2 separate regions of the Homo sapiens genome follow, and region 1 is linked to region 2. The links come from fine-mapping of genetic effects on gene expression. Tissue or cell type: whole blood. Region 2 holds a variant in brackets; the other region holds the start of a gene. All regions are shown on one strand. Distances are from middle to middle.

The links. PIP is the estimated chance that this variant, and not a neighbour inherited with it, causes the effect.
Region 1: it holds the start of CRTC3, and the variant in region 2 is fine-mapped to the expression of CRTC3 in whole blood (TOPMed, PIP 0.98).

Annotation. Positions count from the first base shown.
Region 1 is chr15:90,524,149-90,534,003 of GRCh38, forward strand. CRTC3 (CREB regulated transcription coactivator 3) reads left to right here and starts at 5,775. Exons shown (of 15, transcript NM_022769.5): 1 at 5,775-6,055. The coding sequence starts at 5,924. RefSeq lists silencers at 5,229-5,278, 5,379-6,128, 6,149-6,328 and an enhancer at 6,719-6,878.
Region 2 is chr15:90,632,070-90,641,698 of GRCh38, forward strand. CRTC3 (CREB regulated transcription coactivator 3) reads left to right here. Exons shown (of 15, transcript NM_022769.5): 12 at 6,377-6,577; 13 at 6,666-6,746; 14 at 9,028-9,130. CRTC3-AS1 (CRTC3 antisense RNA 1) reads right to left here. Exons shown (of 4, transcript NR_120372.1): 3 at 8,973-9,188. It also overlaps the pseudogene HSPE1P3. Among named protein-coding and RNA genes, the nearest start is that of LINC01585, 23 kb to the right of the region's middle. RefSeq lists an enhancer at 8,655-9,629. The variant C/T (reference allele first, on the strand shown) is at 6,266.

The sequences.
Region 1 (9,855 bases), 110 kb before region 2:
ATCTAGGAGGCCCATTAACTAACAAAAGTTCCAGAAAGATGCCAGGTGCTGTGACTCATGCCTGTAATCCCAGCACTTTCAGAGGCTGAGGAGGGTGAATCGCATGAGCCCAGGAGTTTGAGACCAGCCTGGGCAACATGGTGAAACCCTGTCTCCACTAAAAATACAAAAAAAGTTAGCCAGGCATGGTGGTGCGTGCCTGTAATCCCAGGTACTCAGGAGGCTGAGGCAGGAGAACCGCTTGAACCCAAGAGGCAGAGGTTGCAGTGAGCTGAGATTGCGCCACTGCACTCCAGCCTAGGTGACAGAGCAAGACTCCATCTCAAAAACAAAAAACAATAAACCAAAAAAAAAAAAACCAAAAACAAACAAACAAAAAAACAGGTCACCTACAAAGGAAAAGGAAACCGAATGTGAGTGGCCTTCTCAGTAGCAACACTGAAAGTGAGAAAACAGTGACCCAATGCATTCAAAGATCTAAATGAAAAGCATTTCCAGAGAAGCCCTACTCTTAGCCAAGCTAATAATCAAACAGGAGGGTAAAATAAAACCATCTTCACACACAGTCTCAGAGATTTTATCTTTCACGTACCCTTTTTCTCTCCAGGAAACTATTGGAGAATGTACTCCACCAAAGTGAAGGTGTACACATGGCAAGACGACAACCTGGGATCCGGGAAGCGGAGGTGAGAACACAGGAGGCGGAGGGAAGCTTGGGGTGATGGTGAGGGGGACTGCACCACAGCAGTGCTGCAGGCTGGGGAACAGCCCAGGATGCAGCCAGAGGGCACAGCGCTCCAGAAAAGAAGCTTCCCCCAAAACCAGTCATTCATAGATTCAGTCATATGTTTCATAGCTCTGTCGGAGTTTGGGAAAGGATGAATAATGGCTTGAGAGAAATCTAAGCAAATCAATAACAGAGGCAATTTTTAACTCCAAAAAGAAATTTGTACCAAAATAGAACTATGCTACACTATGTGAACGCTTAATATTGCCAAGCACAGTGGCTCATACCTGTAATCCCAGCACTTTGGGAGGCCGAGGCGGGAGGATCCCTTGAGCCCAGGGGTTCGAGACCAGCCTGGGCAACATGGTAAGACTTCATCACTACAAAAACTGAAGAAACTTAGCCAGGTGTGGTGGTGCGTGCCTGTAGTCCCAGCTACTTAGGAGGCTGAGGTGGGAGGATTGCTTGAGCCCAGAAGGTCGGAGCTGCAGTGAGCCAAGATCATGCCACTGTACTACAGCCTGGGTGACAGAGTGAGACCCTGTCTCAAAATAATAACAATAATAATTTAAAAACCACTTAATATTGATTTACCAAGAATGATCACATAACTACATTGAAAGAATGAGGTCAGGGAAAATTATATTTTTGTTGGGGCATAAAATGGCCAAATCATCATTTTCTATGGTAGAAAATGAACAGTTAACTATCTAAAATTTTAAAATATCATAAAACAGCAGGATTAACTTCATTTAAAGTAGGACTTGGGGGCCATGTATGGTGGCTCATCCCTGTAATCCCAGCACTTTGGGAGGCTGAGTTTGGGGGATCACTTGAGCCCAGGAATTCAAGACTAGCCTGAGCAACATAGGAAGACCTTGTCTCTACTAAAATTAAAAAAAAAAAACAACAAGCCAGGGATGGTGCCACGCACCTGTAGTCCCAGCTACTGAGGAGGCGCTGAGGTGAGAGTGTCTGAGGCTGCAGTGAGCCCTGATCTTTCCATTCACTGCACTCCAGCCTGGGTAACAGAGCAAGAGACCCTGTCTCAAAAAAAAAAAAAAAAAAAAAAAAAGGACTTGAGAAATCTTTTTACGATTGTAAGCCTATAAATTTCACTTCTTAAATAATTCACATTTTTTGATTAGAAAATTATCCCAGCTTCTCAGGAAACTGAGGCAGGAGGATGGCTTGAGCCCACGAGTTCAGGTCCAGCCTGGGCAACACAGTGAGACCCTGTCTCTAAAAAAAAAAAACCAAATGTAATATGATTAAGTTAATCAAATAAGAACAGAAGTAGAATGAATATACTCCAAATCAGATTCCAGAAACATGGAACCAGAGTGCAGCTATGACAGGTGCCTATGCTGGTGAATTGGTGGACAGATAATGGTAGATTTAGCTTAATACTCATCTCATCTCTATATATATATATATATATTTGTTTTTGTGAGACGGAGTCTCCCTCTGTCACCCAGGCTGGAGTGCAGTGGCGCGATCTCGGCTCACTGCAAGCTCCGCCTCTCGGGCTCACGCCATTCTCCTGCCTCTGCCTCCCGAGTAGCTGGGACTACAGGTGCCCGCCACCACCACGCCCCGCTAATTTTTTTTGTATTTTTAGTAGAGACGGGGTTTCACCGTGTTAGCCAGGATGGTCTCGATCTCCTGACCTCATGATCTGCCCGCCTTGGCCTCCCAAAGTGCTGGGATTACAGGCACGACCACCGCACCCAGCCTTTCATCTCAATATCTTTCTACAGTCCTCCCTACATTGCACAAGCTGAAAGGTCGAATCTACATTTCCTAGATGACCTTGTGGCAGGGATTTTGGACACAATTTTGGTTTTTCCAATCATTTCCTCTCATGAGATGTATAAGGTGGAGGTGAAGTGAAGTCTGTGTGTGCTATTTATGCTGGGGAGTGCTGTGGTGGAGGTGTTTGATTTTTTTTTTTTTTTTTTGAGACGGAGTCTCGCTTCGTCGCCCAGGCTGGAGTGCAGTCGGGTGATCTTGGCTCACAGCAACCTCTGCTCCTGGGTTCAAGCAATTCTCCTGTCTCAGCCTCCTGAGTAGCTGGGACTATAGGCGCCTGCCACCACGCCCTGCTAATTTTTATATTTTTAGTAGAGACCGGGTTTCACCTTGTTGGTCAGACTGGTCTCAAACTCCTGACCTCAGGTGATCCACCCACACCTCGGCCTCCCAAAGTGCTGGGATTACAGGTGTGAGCCACTGAGCCTGGCCTTTTTTTTTTTTTTTTTTTTTTTTTTTGAGACGGAGTCTCCCTCTGTGGCCCAGGCTGGAGTGCAGTGGTGTGATCTTGGCTGACTGCAACCTCCCCCTCCTGGATTTAAGCAATTCTCCTGCCTCAGCCTCCTGAGTAGCTGGGACTACAGGCACATGCCACCACACCTGGCTAATTTTTGTATTTTTAGTAGAGACAGGGTTTCACCATATTGGTCAGGGTGGTCTCAAACTCCTGACCTCAGGCGATCTGCCCGCCTTGGCCTCCCAAAATGCTGGGATTACAGGCGTGAGCCACTGCACCTGGCCGATGCTTGATATTTCTGCAGTGGCTTCTCATCATGATGATACCTGTATGGTTCAAGAGCTGGTAAGTGTAGAGACAGCTTTCCAATTTAGTAGATGGCTTCCTGATTTCAAAAGAGGCAGTGTCTCCTTTGGTGGCTCAGTATTGCAGCATAGCTCTCAAAGTCATTCCTCAAAGTTCAACCTGGAGTCGGTTGCTTCAGCCCTCCAAACAAGTCTGGAAGTCATTTTATACCCTGTAATATATTCTTTTGTACTTAAACCATCTAGAATGGTTCTGTTCTCTGAAACTTGACCCAAACAATGTAACAGAAAAGCAGAAATAAAATGTAAAGAAAAATGCTAGGCGCGGTGGCTCACGCCTGCAATCCCAGCATTTTGGGAAGCCGAGACAGGTGGATCACCTGTGATCAGCAGTTTGAGACCAGCCTGACCAACATGGTGAAACCTCGTCTCTACAAAAAATACAAAAAATTAGCCTGCGTGGTGGCGTGTACCTGTAATCCCAGCTACTCAGGAGGCTGAGGCAGGAGAATAGCTTGAACCCAGGAGGCAGAGATTGCAGTGAGCCGAGATTGCACCACTGCACTCCAGCCTGGGCGACAGAGCGCGACTCTGTCTTAAAAAAAAAAAAAAAAACTAGCCGGGCATGGTGGCGCAAGCCTGTAATCCCAGTTACTCGGGAGGCTGAGGCACAAGAATCACTTGAACTCAAGAGGCAGAGTTTGCAGTGAGCTGAGATCAGGCCACTGCACTCCAGCCTGGGTAACAGAGCAAGACTCCGTCTCAAAAACAAACCAACAACAAAAAAAAAGCATGGTAAATAACACAAAATACAACAGAAAAAAAAATCCAATTATAATTAATAAAAATAGCTAAATTCTAGCTAACAGAGATATATTTTCAGAATACATTTTCTAAAAAGTCCAGTTATAGGCTATGTCTGAGAGACAGGTGAAAAACATAATGGAATATTATCATATAAATGAATTGACACAAATATATCTCGAAAACATAATGGAGAATGAAAAAAGATGCAAAATGATTATTCAGTATGGTGTCATTTTTGTAAAGTTTAAAAACAAAATTAGGTATTCCATATAGCATTGCTGGATCTCTACATCATATGTAATAAAAGTATAAAAACACAAACTGGAATGATATGTACCAACTTGAGCACGGTGACTATCTGTGGGGCGGAAGAAGAAATGAGAGTGGGGCCGTCGTTATGACTAATTTTGTATGTCTTTAATAAATCCCAAGTACATGCAGCAAAATGTATTGATGTCTGTTTAATCTTGATAGTGGGGGGCGTGGGTAGTATTAATATTATTTTCCGTACTCTTCCGTAGGCCTCTAATATTTCCCTCTTTACAGAACACTGACACACGCTCAGGGCTCCCCGGGACATCTTTGTGCACATCAACATTTATGCTGAGAGTAGCTTCTGGACTCCAAAGAGGAAACTCCCCGGGCACTGTGGCCCACGCCTGTTATCCCAGCACTTTGGGAGGCTGAGGTGGGCAGATCGCTTGAGCCCAGGCGTTCGAGACCAGCCTGGGCAAAATAGCGAGACCCACCCCCGCCCCCCATTGCTACAAAAACATTTACAAACTAGCCGGGCGTGGTGACCCCCGCCTGTGGTCCCAGCTGGTCGGGAGGCTGAGGTGGGAGGATCTTTTGAGCCCGGGAGGTCAAGGCCGCGGTGAGTCGAGATCGCACCACTACACTCCAGACCGGGCGACAGAGAAAGACATCCATTCACTCCCCCAAAAGAAGGGGAAATTCGCTGAGGCTGAGCGCTGGTTTCCCAAGGTGGGGCTGGCACCTGCTGAAGCTGCCACAGGAGTGGAGAGGCCGTAGGGAGACTTGGAAAGAACCTGGAAAGGGGGCCGGGGCTATGGAGCCAAGGCTGCAGCAGGGCTGGATGGTGTTTGTAGTTTGTGCAGAATAGGAGGCAGTTTTTAAAGCCGAGATACAGCTCTGGTTGACTGGAGCGGGGAGGGGTGGGTGTGAGAGGTCAGGAAACCAGCGGCTGGAGGCCGGGGGCCTGGAGCGGCAGGGCTGGCGGGCAGACGTTAGGCCCCAGGCAAAATGGGCGCACCCCCTGCGGGGGCCCGAGGTGACCTGCTCGAGGTCCGGTCGCCCAGGTTCCACCTGGAGAAGAAAATCTTCGTAATTTGGCTGGGGGAGGGGGGATGCGGGCACAGGCTGTGTTCTCCACGTCGCGTAGACGCAGAGGCCATCCCTGGGTCGGAGAGTCTCCGTGGAGTGGCACCCCAGCGTTCCCCGTACGCCGGGGCCACTTTGTCGGGCTGACGGGGGTCCCTCCAGGTGGCCGCCGGCGGCGGGTCCCGAGCCAGACCGGGAAGCGGGGAGCAGCCCTCAGCCCGCGAGCGTGGGGCCGGGGCAGACTGGAGGCCGGGCGGGCCCCGCCGAGGGTGGGGCGGGGCCGGGCGCACGGGGGCGGACCTCGGCGCGCTCCCGGCCGCTCGCTGGCTCCGGGGCCGCGGCGGCTCCTCTGCCGGGTCGCGCCGGACGACTGGCTTCGGGCGGCGGCCCCGGCGGCCTGTGGACGGACGGGTGGGCCGAGGTACAGGCCCCACGGCCGCCGTCTCCCGCTTCTGCCCGCGCAGAGTCCGCGCCATGGCCGCCTCGCCGGGCTCGGGCAGCGCCAACCCGCGGAAGTTCAGTGAGAAGATCGCGCTGCACACGCAGAGACAGGCCGAGGAGACGCGGGCCTTCGAGCAGCTCATGACCGACCTCACCCTGTCGCGGGTGAGGGCCCGGGCCGGCGCGGGCGGGGGCGGCCACGGCCGCGGGCGGGACCCGCGCGGCGGGTGAGAGGTTGCGGGGCCAAGGCGATGGCGGGGCCGGGCGGGGGCCGCGCCCGGGAACCGGCGGCTGGGAGGGGGACCGGAGCGGCCGCGGCCTCGGCGTTTCCCCGCCTGGCGACACCCGCTAGCCGTTCGCGATCCCGGGCTGAGGTGGGAGGGTCGCCCGGCCCCGTGTGCGGGAAGATGGGCAGGGGTGAAGCCCGTGGAGGCGGGCGGCCGTGCGAGGGCGGCCTGAGGGGGAGGAGGACGAGGAGCCCCGAGAGGAAATCGCAAACAGCTCGGAGGCCGGCCGGGTGGCGCGGCGCGGCTTCTGGTCGCTCCGAACATCCCCCACCATCGAGCCCTGCTGTTCTGCCGGCGTGGAAGGCCGCGGGCACCCCAGGGTCCCACGCGCTCGTGGGGGGAGCTCTGTGCACAAGTCCATCCAGGGCCCGGCCCTGGGGTGGCTCGGGTTGTTGGAACCACGACGGGATTCCGTGTCGAGTGTGAGGCTCTGCTCCTTTTACTCCTTGGAGGTGCTTTATCGGGTCCAGTTTACTTTGTTCGGCCCGGGATATTTAGTGAGAACTGACAAGCGTCGCTGGTGACTGGAGAGGGACCTGGAGGAATGAGTAAGGCGCGAGCCGGGACAAACACCTGGAGAGGTTAGGTAACCGCTGAGTGAGGCAGTGGAGGATGGAGAGCCAACCGGAGTGTCCGCGCAGGGTTGCAGAGAAGGGGGGTCAGCAGGAGTGGGGCTGGCCTTGAGGATCCTGAATGCTGACCTTGGAGGACCATCGGGAGGATGGGGGAGGATCTGCAGATTCTGGGGGACTGAGGCGGGGGAGACAGTTTGAAGGAGAGCTGAGAGCAGAGTTGCAAACCAGCTGAGTTGCAGACACATTATTTTTTGGCCAGCGCAGTGTTTGGGAAAAATTATTGAATCTGTTGCCAGAATTTTTAAATTGGAAGACTTCCACACAAAATCCAAATTTCCGTATTATTTATTTATTATTATTTATATATGTTAAAAATTGGGAGACCTGGTAACACTAATTCTGAATTCCTACATGACAGCTACCGACCTGCTGGAGCTGGGTGATGATGAAAGGGAGCTGAGCTGAGCTCCCTTTCAAATGGAGTAAGAACTCTAGTTTGCCACCGTCCACTCTCTGTCACAGTCCCCCAAGGGGAGATTAGGTGACAGTTGCCATTTATACTCATGATGGTGTTTTCTTTCAGTGAAGTTAAGGAAAAAGTGAAATATTTCCTGTACTTACATTTCTGTTCACATTGAGAAAAAATATATATATAGAGAGAAAGAAGCTGAAGATTTCAAGAAAATGTTTTCTTATACCCTATCAGCTTCACTCATTTTTTACCTGCCTGGCATCCACTGGCATTTACATCTGTGACCTTGGTTAGATTCAGAGATGAACTCGATAAGCTCAGAGCACGTTGAAAAGAATGGGTGGGTGAAAGCTGAGGATTAGTGTTGGGGCCTGTGTTGTTATGTGTTTTTAAATACATACTGTACATTGTTTATGTACAAATACATGCACTGTATATGTCTGTATACCTATGGCGGATCCAATCTTTCACCCAATTCATGAATCTTCTTTAAAATATCCCTGACAGGTGAGGCCATGAGTAATGTACAGACTCTCTTTTAAAAGCAAAAATTTTTCACAGATCCTCACTGTTTACTTACTTTCAAGTAAAAAAAAAGTGTTTACTTACTTTAGAGACCCTGCTATAGCTCAGGGTCTCTTGAATTTAGCAAGCCTAATCAACTGTGGCCCATATGATAATTCAGTCACCACTTTATTCTAATTACTACAAAATTATGGTGTCATTTTGCCCTTCACCTGGTACAGGGAATCATTTACATATTAATTCTGCCCGTGTTTTCTTCTTGGCCAGTTACCAGTAAAGTAACACTGCTTGGCTCCACCGTGTTCATAAACACATCTGTAAATGATAACACTGAATTTGGCTACTAATGTTTGCTTATTTAAAAATCTTAAGGGTTATTTTCATGAAGAAATCACAAAATTAGAACACTTCTCATAGAGAACTCTTAGATTCCCAGCATGTCTATGAAGAATGCGTCTCTAAGGATCCAAAGATCCCAGTTGGAGGAGTATCTGCCTAGTTCATAATTGGTAACTGGGTGGCAGATATACTGACTTTTCATTACTAGCCCATGACAGACATGCTAATTCCTGACTTTTCATTACTAGCCCATGACAGACATGCTAATCGATAGGGCAGACATTACTGATCTATCTAGATGCTCTTTCCCCTCTGAGCCTGTGTTGGGATTCAAGTTCTTCTCTACATGATCAAAGCAATCCTTCAGAGTTGGCCTTACTTACCTATTCACCTAGGCGTTACTTATCCTATTCACCTAGTGGGTAGGATAGACTAGACTGTAGAGGATTTTCTCTAGCTTTAGAAGTCCGGCATTATCAGGAAGCAGTGGGAAAATTTTGAGAAGGGAGTACTAGGAGGAGGAGTTGAGTGGTGGTACCTGGAATGGTAAAGAGAGGGAGGAAAGTGGGGTCGGGCGTGGTGGTTCACGCCTGTAATCCCAGCACTTTGGGAGGCTGAGGCGGGCAGATCACGAGGTCAAGAGATCGAGACCATCCTGGCCAACATGGCGAAACCCCGTTTCTACTAAAAGTACAAAAATTAGCCTGGCATGGTGGCGTGCGCCTGTAGTTCCAGCTACTCGGGAGGCTGAGGCAGGAGAATCGCTCGAACCCAGGAGGTGGAGGTTGCAGTGAGCCGGGATCGCACCGCTGCACTCCAGCCTGGGCGACAGAGCAAGACTTCATCTCAAAAAAAAAAAAAAAAAAAAAAAAAAAAAAAAAAAAAGGCCGGGCGCGGTGGGTCACGCCTGTAATCCCAGCACTTTGGAAGGCCGAGGCGGGCAGATCACGAGGTCAGGAGATCGAGACCATCCTGGCTAACACAGTGAAACCCTGTCTTTACTAAAACTACAAAAAAATTAGCCGGGCATGGTGGCGGGCGCCTGTAGTCCCAGCTACTCGGGAGGCTGCGGCAGGAGGGAGGCTGCGGCAGGAGAATGGCGTGAACCCGGAAGGCGGAGCTTGCAGTGAGCCGAGATCGCGCCATTGCACTCCAGCCTGGGCGACAGAGCGAGACTCCGCCTAGGAAAAAAAAAAAAAAAGGGAAGAAAGTGGTTGCAGGTATGCCTGGGAAGAGGCTGTTCTGTTGTTCATTTATTAATGTATTCATTTGTCAGTATTTGAGTGCCTACTTTGTTGTTAATGGGGTGTGTGTTTGTGAGGGAGAAGAGTGAAAACATGGGGCTGTCCTTTAAAGATCTTACTGATTTGTTCCACAAATTTACTTACTGAGTGAGTCCTTAGTGTGTGCCAGGGGTTAGGATGGACACTGGGTATATAGTAATGAGCAAGCAAAACACAGTGTCCCAGTGGATTTTAGGATTTAATGAGGAAGACATTCATTTAATAAGTAAGGACACATTTTGGTGAATATCACCAAAACAGAAGTAGGTGGAGCTCTGGACCTGTATGGTAGGGAATTCTCACCTCTTCCAGTGGCCTAAAGGCTCAGGGGGAGTGGGGGAGGCATTCGAGGGTTTGTGTGTTGAGGGAGGGAATATGTTGCAGGTACAGAGAACAGAGATTCAGTAAAAGAGGATGAGGAGGGGATGTGAGATGAGGCTGGAGGCATTCATAGGGATCAGGTTGTAGAGACAGGATTTGGAAC
Region 2 (9,629 bases):
TTTTGTATTTTTTTTTTTTTGTAGAGATGGGGTTTCACCATATTGCCCAGGCTAGTCCATAATTATTGTTTTCGTGGTTCTTATGTTATTGAATTACCTTTAATTTTATTTTGCAAGATTATTTTATAAGATCTAAAAGTATTCTTGCTTTTTAGCTACATTTTAAGGAGACTGTATGGCCAGAGTGTCCCCTTTCAGATGTGTTTTTAATTTGTTTAATATTTAGATTTTTTTTAAATGAATGTTGCTGGACACAGTTGTTCTGACTGTAATCCCAGCTACTCAGGAGGCAGAGACTGGAGGATTGCTTAAGGCCCGGAGTTCAAGACCAGCCTTGGCAACATAGTGACACCCTATCTATCTCTTAAAAAAAGGAAATTTTAAAAAGTGAATGTTATTCATGCACATAGTTTAAAAAGTAAAATAGTTCTAAAGGGCTTGTTATAGAAAAACAGCTGTCTTTCCCTCTCGTTAGGCATATTCCTCACTGCCTAGAGATGGCTGTCAACCATTTTAACTAATCTCTTTGGTATAACCATGTTATTATTATTTTGAGACAGAGTCTTGCTCTGTCACCCAGGCTGGGGTGTAGTGGTGCGATCTCAACTCACTGAAACCTCCACCTCCCAGGTTCAAGCGATTTTCCTGCCTCAGCTTCCTAAGTAGCTGGGACTACAGGCATGTGCCACGACGCCTGGCTACTTTTTGTATTTTTAGTAGATACAGGGTTTTACCATGTTAGCCAGGCTGGTTTCGAACTCCTGACCTCAGGCAGTCTGCCCGCCTCGGCGTCCCAAAGTGCTGGATTACAGGCATGAGCCACCTCACCCAGCCTAACCATGTTGTTTTATGCTTTTTTTGTTCTACATTTTTGGTGTTAGGCATTATCTAATGACATCCTACCAATGAAGATTAGAATTTAATTCTCTTTCCACTCTCCCACAGACTCCACCACACACATATGTGCGCACATGTGCACACACAATTTCCTACCCACCCTCCTCATTTATTATAATTTTGGTTAGAGCAATACTCAATATTTAGTGTTTTTATAGTTACAATGTAGTCAGAGTTGACATATAGTATACTATGAAACAAGAAAATGAGAATTTTTTTTCCTCTTGGGAGTTAATAAATGTCTGACTTTTTTTATTAGCCTGGTTATCTATATGTATCTATGTGTATGACTAATTCAGTCCCCAACTCTTGGAGTTGGGCAGATCTCCTCTCGACACATTCAAAACTAAATTCTCTAGTAGCTCTATAGCAAAGAGTGCCTGTGACTTTGTATGACTTAAAATGTCTTTATTTGATCTGCCATTTAATTATTATTTGGCTGAATATAGAATTCTAAATTTGAAATAATTTTCCCTTGGCATCTATTGCCTATTCATTTGTAAGTTGCATTGAGAAATCCAGTGCCATTCGGACTCTTAACACTTTGCATGGAATCCCCCTGCTCCACCCCAGGCTTGTGAGATCTTTTTGTCCCCAGTGTTCTGAAACTTCAAGATGATGTGGCTTGGCGTGAGTCTGCATATTTGGTGGGTTCCTTCAATCTGGAAACTCACAGCCTTCATTTCTGGGAAATGTTCTTTATTTCTTCAATGATTTCTTCCCTTCAGTTTTCTCTGTTCTTTCTCTCTGGAACTCTACGAATGTTGACTATCCTGGACTTTTCCTCTATTATCCTTATCTTCTCTCTCTCCTCTTTTGCTTCTCTGTGGTTGCTTCCTTGTTTGTTTGTTTTGCTTTGCTTTCTGGAAGATTGTCTCAGCTTTATCTTCCAACACTTCTGTTGAGTTTTCCATTTCTGCTCTCATTTTTAAATTGCTATGAGTTCTTTTTTGTTCTCTGAGTGTTCTTTTTTAATAGCATCATACTTATTCCACAGATGCAATATCATCTTTTATCTCTCAGGTTTTTAGTGGTCTTTTTTTTTCGAATTTATCTTTATTTTCTATAATAGAATTTTCCTAAATTGCATAAAAGTAGAGAACATAATACAATAAGTCCTCCTATACCCATCATTTACCCTCAACAATTAATTTTTTTTTTTTGAGACAGGGTCTTGCTCTGTTGCCCAGGCTGGAGTGCAGTGGTGTGATCTCGGCTCATTGTAACCTCCGCCATCCAGGTTCAAACCATTCTCCTGGCCTCAGCCTCCCGAATAGCTGGGACTACAGGTGCACACCACCACACCTGGCTAATTTTTGTAATTTTTAGTAGAGACGGGATTTCACCATGTTGGCCAGGCTGGTTTCAAACTCCTGACCTCAGGTGATCCACCCACCTCAGCCTCCCAAAGTCTGAGATTACAGGCGTGAGCCAGCACGCCAGCCTTGTTATCTTGTTTCATCCATACCCTGCTTTTAAAAATTGCAGATATTTTAATATGTATCTCTAATAGATAAGGATTTTCTTAGTAGCCTAAATATTGTCATGCTGATTTTGGTTTTTCACAACTACTTCTTCCTGCACACATCTTTCCAAGATTGTGTGTGTCTGCTCTGGCCTCTGACTTTCACGGCAGATGGTTTCCTCAGGGCCTGGTGATCCTCAGTGCTCTGCTCATGTTTAAGAACAGGACACTGAGGGGCTGTCTCCTTGCGGCTCTACACTAGAGCGGAGTATGAGACTGAGGCGAAGGGAGTCATGGCAGGACAAGCGTGTAGAAAGTTTTTTCCACTCTCTGACTGAGTATTGGTTGGAAGGAGCGCTGCTAAAACTGTAACCAAAGGAGGCATTTTGCTTCCAGAAAAATCTCAAGGAAAAGTATTGCAAGCAACAGTAGTCACTGTTGGATCGGGTTCTAAAGGTAAGGCTGGAGAGATTCAACCAGTTAGCGTGAAAGTTGGAGATAAAGTTCTTCTCCCAGAATATGGAGGCACCAAAGTAGTTCTAGATGACAAGGATTATTTCCTATTTAGAGATGGTGACATTCTTGGAAAGTACATAGACTGAAATAAGTCACTACTGAAATGGCATCAGTGTGAAGCTGCCCATTCCACTGAAGTTCTGAAATCTTTCATCATGTAAATAATTTCCATATTTCTTATAATAAACTAATGATAACTAATGACATCCAGTGTCTCCAAAATTGTTTCCTTGTACTGATATAAACATTTCCAAATAAAAATATGTAAATGAGAAAAAAAAAAGGACACTGAGAAGCTGGCTGGCAGCTCTGTGTATGTGGGCAGGCCTGCTGAGTGTGGTCTTCATTGTAGAATGATCTAGCTTGGTCATTTCCTTGGGAAACTCCTGGTGTCATAAGTTTTACATTCTTCTCTGGCCAGGCGTGGTGGCTCACACCTGTAATCTCAGCACTTTGGGAGGCCGAGGCGGGTGGATCACCTGAGGTCAGGAGTTCGAGACCAGCCTGGCCAACATGGTGAAACCCCGTCTCTACTAAAAATACAAAAATTAGCCAGGCGTGTTAGCATGCTCCTGTAATCTCAGCTACTCGGGAGACTGAGGCAGGAGAATTGCTTGAACCCAGGAGGTGGAGGTTGCAGTGAGCCAAGGTCATGCCACTGCACTCCAGCTTGGGTGACAGAGCAAGACTCTGTCTCCAGAAAAACTCTGTCTCCAGAAAAAAAGATTTTCTCTCTTCAGGCCTTGTCAGGTTCCCTAAAGGACACTCTTCCAATGTCGCACCTCGGCATATCAGGATTCCGGCATCCTGTGAGCCGGGTTGGGAAAGAAAGGTGGAGATCTTAAGATTCGATCGTGAAATTTCTTCTAAAGAATAAAATACCTAGGAATCCAACTTATAAGGGATGTGAAGGACCTCTTCAAGGAGAACTACAAACCACTGCTCAATGAAATAAAAGAGGATACAAACAAATGGAAGAACATTCCATGCTCATGGGTAGGAAGAATCAATATTGTGAAAATGGCCATACTGCCCAAGGTAATTTATAGATTCAATGCCATCCCCATCAAGCTACCAATGACTTTCTTCACAGAATTGGAAAAAACTACTTTAAAGTTCATATGGAACCGAAAAAGAGCCCACATTGCCAAGTCAATCCTAAGCCAAAAGAACAAAGCTGGAGGCATCATGCTACCTGACTTCAAACTATACTACAAGGCTACAGTAACCAAAACAGCATGGTACTGGTACCAAAACAGAGATATAGACCAATGGAACAGAACAGAGCCCTCAGATATAATGCCACATATCTACAACCATCTGATCTTTGACAAACCTGACAAAAACAAGAAATGGGGAAAGGATTCCCTATTTAATAAATGGTGCTGGGAAAACTGGCTAGCCATACGTAGAAAGCTGAAACTGGATCCCTTCCTTACACCTTATACAAAAATTAATTCAAGATGGATTAAAGACTTAAATGTTAGACCTAAAACCATAAAAACCCTAGAAGAAAACCTAGGCAATACCATTCAGGACATAGGCATGGGCAAGGACTTCATGTCTAAAACACCAAAAGCAATGGCAACAAAAGCCAAAATTAACAAATGGGATCTAATTAAACTAAAGAGCTTCTGCACAGCAAAAGAAACTACCATCAGAGTGAACAGGCAAACTACAGAATGGGAGAAAATTTTTGCAATCTACTCATCTGACAAAGGGCTAATATCCAGAATCTACAAAGAACTCAAATTTACAAGAAAAAAACAAACAACCCCATCAAAAAGTGGGCGAAGGATATGAACAGACACTCTTCAAAAGAAGACATTTATGCAGCTAAAAGACACATGAAAAAATGCTCATCATCACTGGCCATCAGAGAAATGCAAATCAAAACCACAATGAGGTACCATCTCACACCAGTTAGAATGGCAATCATTAAAAAGTCAGGAAACAACAGGTGCTGGAGAGGATGTGGAGAAATAGGAACACTTTTACACTGTTGGTGGGACTGTAAACTAGTTCAACCATTGTGGAAGTCAGTGTGGCGATTCCTTAGGGATCTTGAACTAGAAATACCATTTGACCCAGCCATCCCATTACTGGGTATATACCCAAAGGATTATAAATCATGCTGCTATAAAAACACATGCACACATATGTTTATTGCAGCACTATTCACAATAGCAAAGACTTGGAACCAAGCCAGATGTCCAACAACGATAGACTGGATTAAGAAAATGTGGCACATATACACCATGGAATACTATGCAGCCATAAAAAATGATGAGTTCATGTCCTTTGTAGGGACATGGATGAAGCTGGAAACCATCATTCTCAGCAAACTGTCGCAAGGACAAAAAACCAAACACCACATATTCTCACTCATAGGTGGGAATTGAACAATGAGAACACATGGACACAGGAAGGGGAACATCACACACCGGGGCCTGTTGTGGGATGCGGGGAAGGGGGAGGGATAGCATTGGGAGATATACCTAACGTAAATGACGAGTTAATGGGTGTAGCACACCAACATGGCACGTGTATACATATGTAACAAACCTGCATGTTGTGCACATGTACCCTAGAACTTAAAAAAATAAAATATTAAAGAAAAAGAAATTTCTTCTAAACCCTGTGTTTTCAGTAAAGTGCCTCACCTTCTAATATCCAGAGACCCTTAGTTTTATTATCTCGAAAGTAGAACCTTCCAGTCTCCTGGCAGGTGGCAGGATGGTGGGGGCCAGTGCGCAGAAGCACACTCAAGGCAAGGGCTCTGCAGGTCCAACTGCCCCTTACACAAACTGTGACCAGAATCTCCTGGTTTTAGCTTCACCGCCTGCTCCCTGCTGTCCCCAGTCCCAGAGCCCTGTGGGGACTGAGTGCTGTCAGTGAGATTGCCTCCTGGTTTTTCCTCACTGCCAGCCTAGCATCGGGTTTTCTCAGCTCTGCTAAGCCAGCTGCCACCGGGCCATCTGCTGCTCATTTTCCAGCTTTTGTTGCCATTTTCTTCTCTCCCGTTATCTTTGTCCTCGTGTTGTTTGTTATCATTTAGTGTTCTGTGCTGTTGTTTAGTGTTTTTTATTAATGCTTATTGCTTGTTAATGTTGTAGTGTCTTGTTTTAACAGGATTTGGGGATGACAGAGCTAAGGGCCTTTTTCAATTTTCCACTTTTAACCAGAAGACACGGCTATAAAACAAAACAAAACATGATTTTCACGGAGAAAACTGAAAGGAAATTGGTTAAATTGGCTGTTTTCTTGTTTAGTTCTTTTAAGACAATAGAACTTGTCATTGAATGGAACATGCTTTGTGGGGAAGTAAAATTTGAGATATACTTTGAAGGATGAGAAACGGGCTTCTCACAGCATTGCACAGAACAC[C/T]GCGGTGAGGAAAATCTCAGGCTTCCTCTCACTCTGACATTTCCTAATCCTAAAGGACTTAACGCCAGAAACGCAGAAGCTCATTAGTGGCTTTGTGTGTTTGTTTTGCAGATGGTGTCCTCAGACCGAAGCCAACTTTCCTTTCTGCCCACAGAAGCTCAAGCCCAGGTGTCGCCGCCACCCCCTTACCCTGCACCCCAGGAGCTCACCCAGCCCCTCCTGCAGCAGCCCCGCGCCCCTGAGGCCCCTGCCCAGCAGCCCCAGGCAGCCTCCTCACTGCCACAGTCAGACTTTCAGCTTCTCCCGGCCCAGGTGAGTTCTGGCAGGAGCGTTGGTGCAGAGGGAATGCTTGTTTTGCTCTGAGTTCCAAGCTAAATGATCATCTCCTTATTCCCTGAAGGGCTCATCTTTGACCAACTTCTTCCCAGATGTGGGTTTTGACCAGCAGTCCATGAGGCCAGGCCCTGCCTTTCCTCAACAGGTGGGTGATCGCCCCTGCCTTCTCCTCCCTTGGTGCATAAACTGTACCATTTAGGTTGTTCATTCTGTAGAATTCAGAACTGAGCAGACCAGACATGCCACTTTCCTGGTTCTGGTTGTGTTCTGTGGCTAGAAGAGCCTTTCATCTTCTTTGGCCCTAAAATGCTTTCTCTGGCTGCCTTATTTAGTATCAGGCTTCAGCAGAGGAACTATTGGAACAATCGGCAGGAGACTTTTGATGACACTCTCGTTGTAGAACTGTAAAATCATGAACACTGGAAGGGACACAGCACCTGCCTCCTCAGCGCCCTCATGTTGAAACTGAGGCATAGGGAGAGTGGCGCCTGCTCCCACCGCAGAGTCAGAAGGTGGCGCCGCATTTGGCCTGCACCCAGGCTGGTGCACCCAGCACAGCGTGGGGCCTCCTGGGGAGAGCTCAGTCCTGGGGAGTGAGGGGAGTGCGTTCCGTAAGGTATTTTCAACTCGGCCACTTTCTTTTACAGTTTAGTTTTTTCCTAACATTGACTATTTTTAATATTCTAGATTTTATAGTATTCAATAGTATTCAATAAGTATGGACTGGGCCCTCCGATGGATTAAGGAGTGGAAGAAGGGTTGAACAGGTTCCAGAACTTTTTTTTTTTTTTTTTTTTGAGACAGAATCTTAATCTGTCGCCTAGGCTGGAGTGCAGTGGCGTGATCTCGGCTTACTGCAACCTCCACCTCCTGGGTTCAAGTGATTCTCATGTCTCAGACTCCTGAGTAATTGGGGTTACAGGCATGTACCCCTACACCTGGCTAAATTTTATATTTTTAGTAGAGATGGGGTTTCACTTTGTTGACCAGGCTAATCTTGAACTCCGGACCTCAAGTGATCCACCCGCCTTGGCCTCCCAAAGTGCTGGGATTACAGGTGCGAGCCACTGTGCCCAGCCAAGAACTTAATAAAATAGCTGGGCATAGTGGCTCACGCCTGTAATCCCAGCAGTTTGGGAGGCCGAGGCGGGCGGATCATGAGGTCAGGAGATCGAGACCATCCTGGCTAACACGGTGAAACCTTGTCTCTACTAAAAAATACAAAAAAATTAGCTGGGCGTGGTGGCAGGCACCTGTAGTCCCAGCTACTCGGGAGGCTGAGGCAGGAGAATGGCGTGAAGCCGGGAGGCGGAGCTTGCAGTGAGCTGAGATCGCACCACTGCACTTCAGTCTGGACAACAAAGCAAGACTCTGTCTCAAAATAAGTAAATAAAATAATAATAATAAAATAAATTAAGATAGCTGTTTCCTAAGCAGGCCACAGATGAAGCTTTGTGGCAAGAACCAATCCTCCTTGCCTCCCTGTTTCCCAAAGAGCCATTTTAGTCTAGGTGGGAATCACCGTCTCCCTGAAAAATGATAGACACTTCTTTTGAGACTTTTTTTAAAATGGCTTAGAAAATTAATTTCAGGAAAGGAACCTAAAATTGGCACTGGTTATAACCAGTCCTCATAGAGGCTTTCTCATAGGGAGGAGCTTGCCTGAGTTTCCTCCTTCTGAGTGTGAAAAGGAAAGCCTTCCCCTTTCTCAGTTTTCTAGAAACCAGGGAAGAGGCCAGGTGCAGTGGCTCACACCCATAATCCCAGCACTTTGGGAGGCCAAGGCCAGTGGCTTACTTGAACTCAGGAGTTTGAGACCAGCCTGGGTAAAATACAGCAAGACCCTGTCTCTAAAAAAAATACAAAAATTAGCCAGGCATGGTGGCATGTGGTCCCAGCTATTTGGGAGGCTAAGGTGGACGGATTGCTTGAGCCTGGGAGCTGGAGGTTTCAGTGAGCCGAGATGGCGCCATTGCACTCCAGCCTGGGCAACAGAGACCCTATCTTTAAAAAAAAAAAGAAGAAAGAAACCAAGGAAGAAGAGTCCATACTTCCTTGGTTATAGACAGAGCCTTTGAAGGGTTCCCACAGAAGGCAGTTTGCAAAGGCCTTGGTGAGGCTGAGGACAGATGTCTGAGGGGCCACAGAAACCATGAGCATTGGTGTCTCTTGGGATGGTGTAGTGGGCTGGGGAAAAGTCACCACGCTGTGGACCTCAGGGACCCCTCCTCCACCCCAGCGTCTGCCTGCCTGACAAGAATATTGTGCATGCATTACCATAAGAGCAAAGCACTCTGGGATCCTGGAAAGAAGGGAATATGGATTAGTTTGCAAGTCAGGTTTTGCTCTGGGAGCACATTGCAATACTCACTTCCTCCTTGGAAACAGAGGTGTGGCCTTCCTCACATGACCTTCGATGCTTCCAGGTGCCTCTGGTGCAACAAGGTTCCCGAGAACTGCAGGACTCTTTTCATTTGAGACCAAGCCCGTATTCCAACTGCGGGAGTCTCCCGAACACCATCCTGCCAGGTGAGCGAGCTATCCCTCAGCTTCTTTACTGCTTTTATGTTGTTGTGTGTTCAGGAACCTTCATAAGAGAGTTTAAACAACATAATATTATATAAAGCAAAAAGTTAACGTTCCCTGGGTCGACTTGACTTTTTGAGATGCAGGTGTCCAGCCTCAGAGACCGTGACACAGGGCGGTGGGCCTGGTAGTCAAAGCCTTTTCTGAAAGATTTCATCTGGCCCAGTGCGGTGGCTCACGCCTGTAATCCCAGCACTTTGGGAGGCCGAGGTGGGCGGATCATCAGGTCAGGAGATCGAGACCATTCTGGCTAACACAGCGAAACCCCGTCTCTACTAAAAAATACAAAAAAAATTAGCTGGGCATGGCGGCGGGCGCCTGTGGTCTCAGCTACTCGGGAGGCTGAGGCAGAATGGCACCAACCCAGGAGGTGGAGCTTGCAGTGAGCCGAGATTGTGCCACTGTACTCCAGCCTGGGCAACAGTCTCCAAAAAAAAAAAAA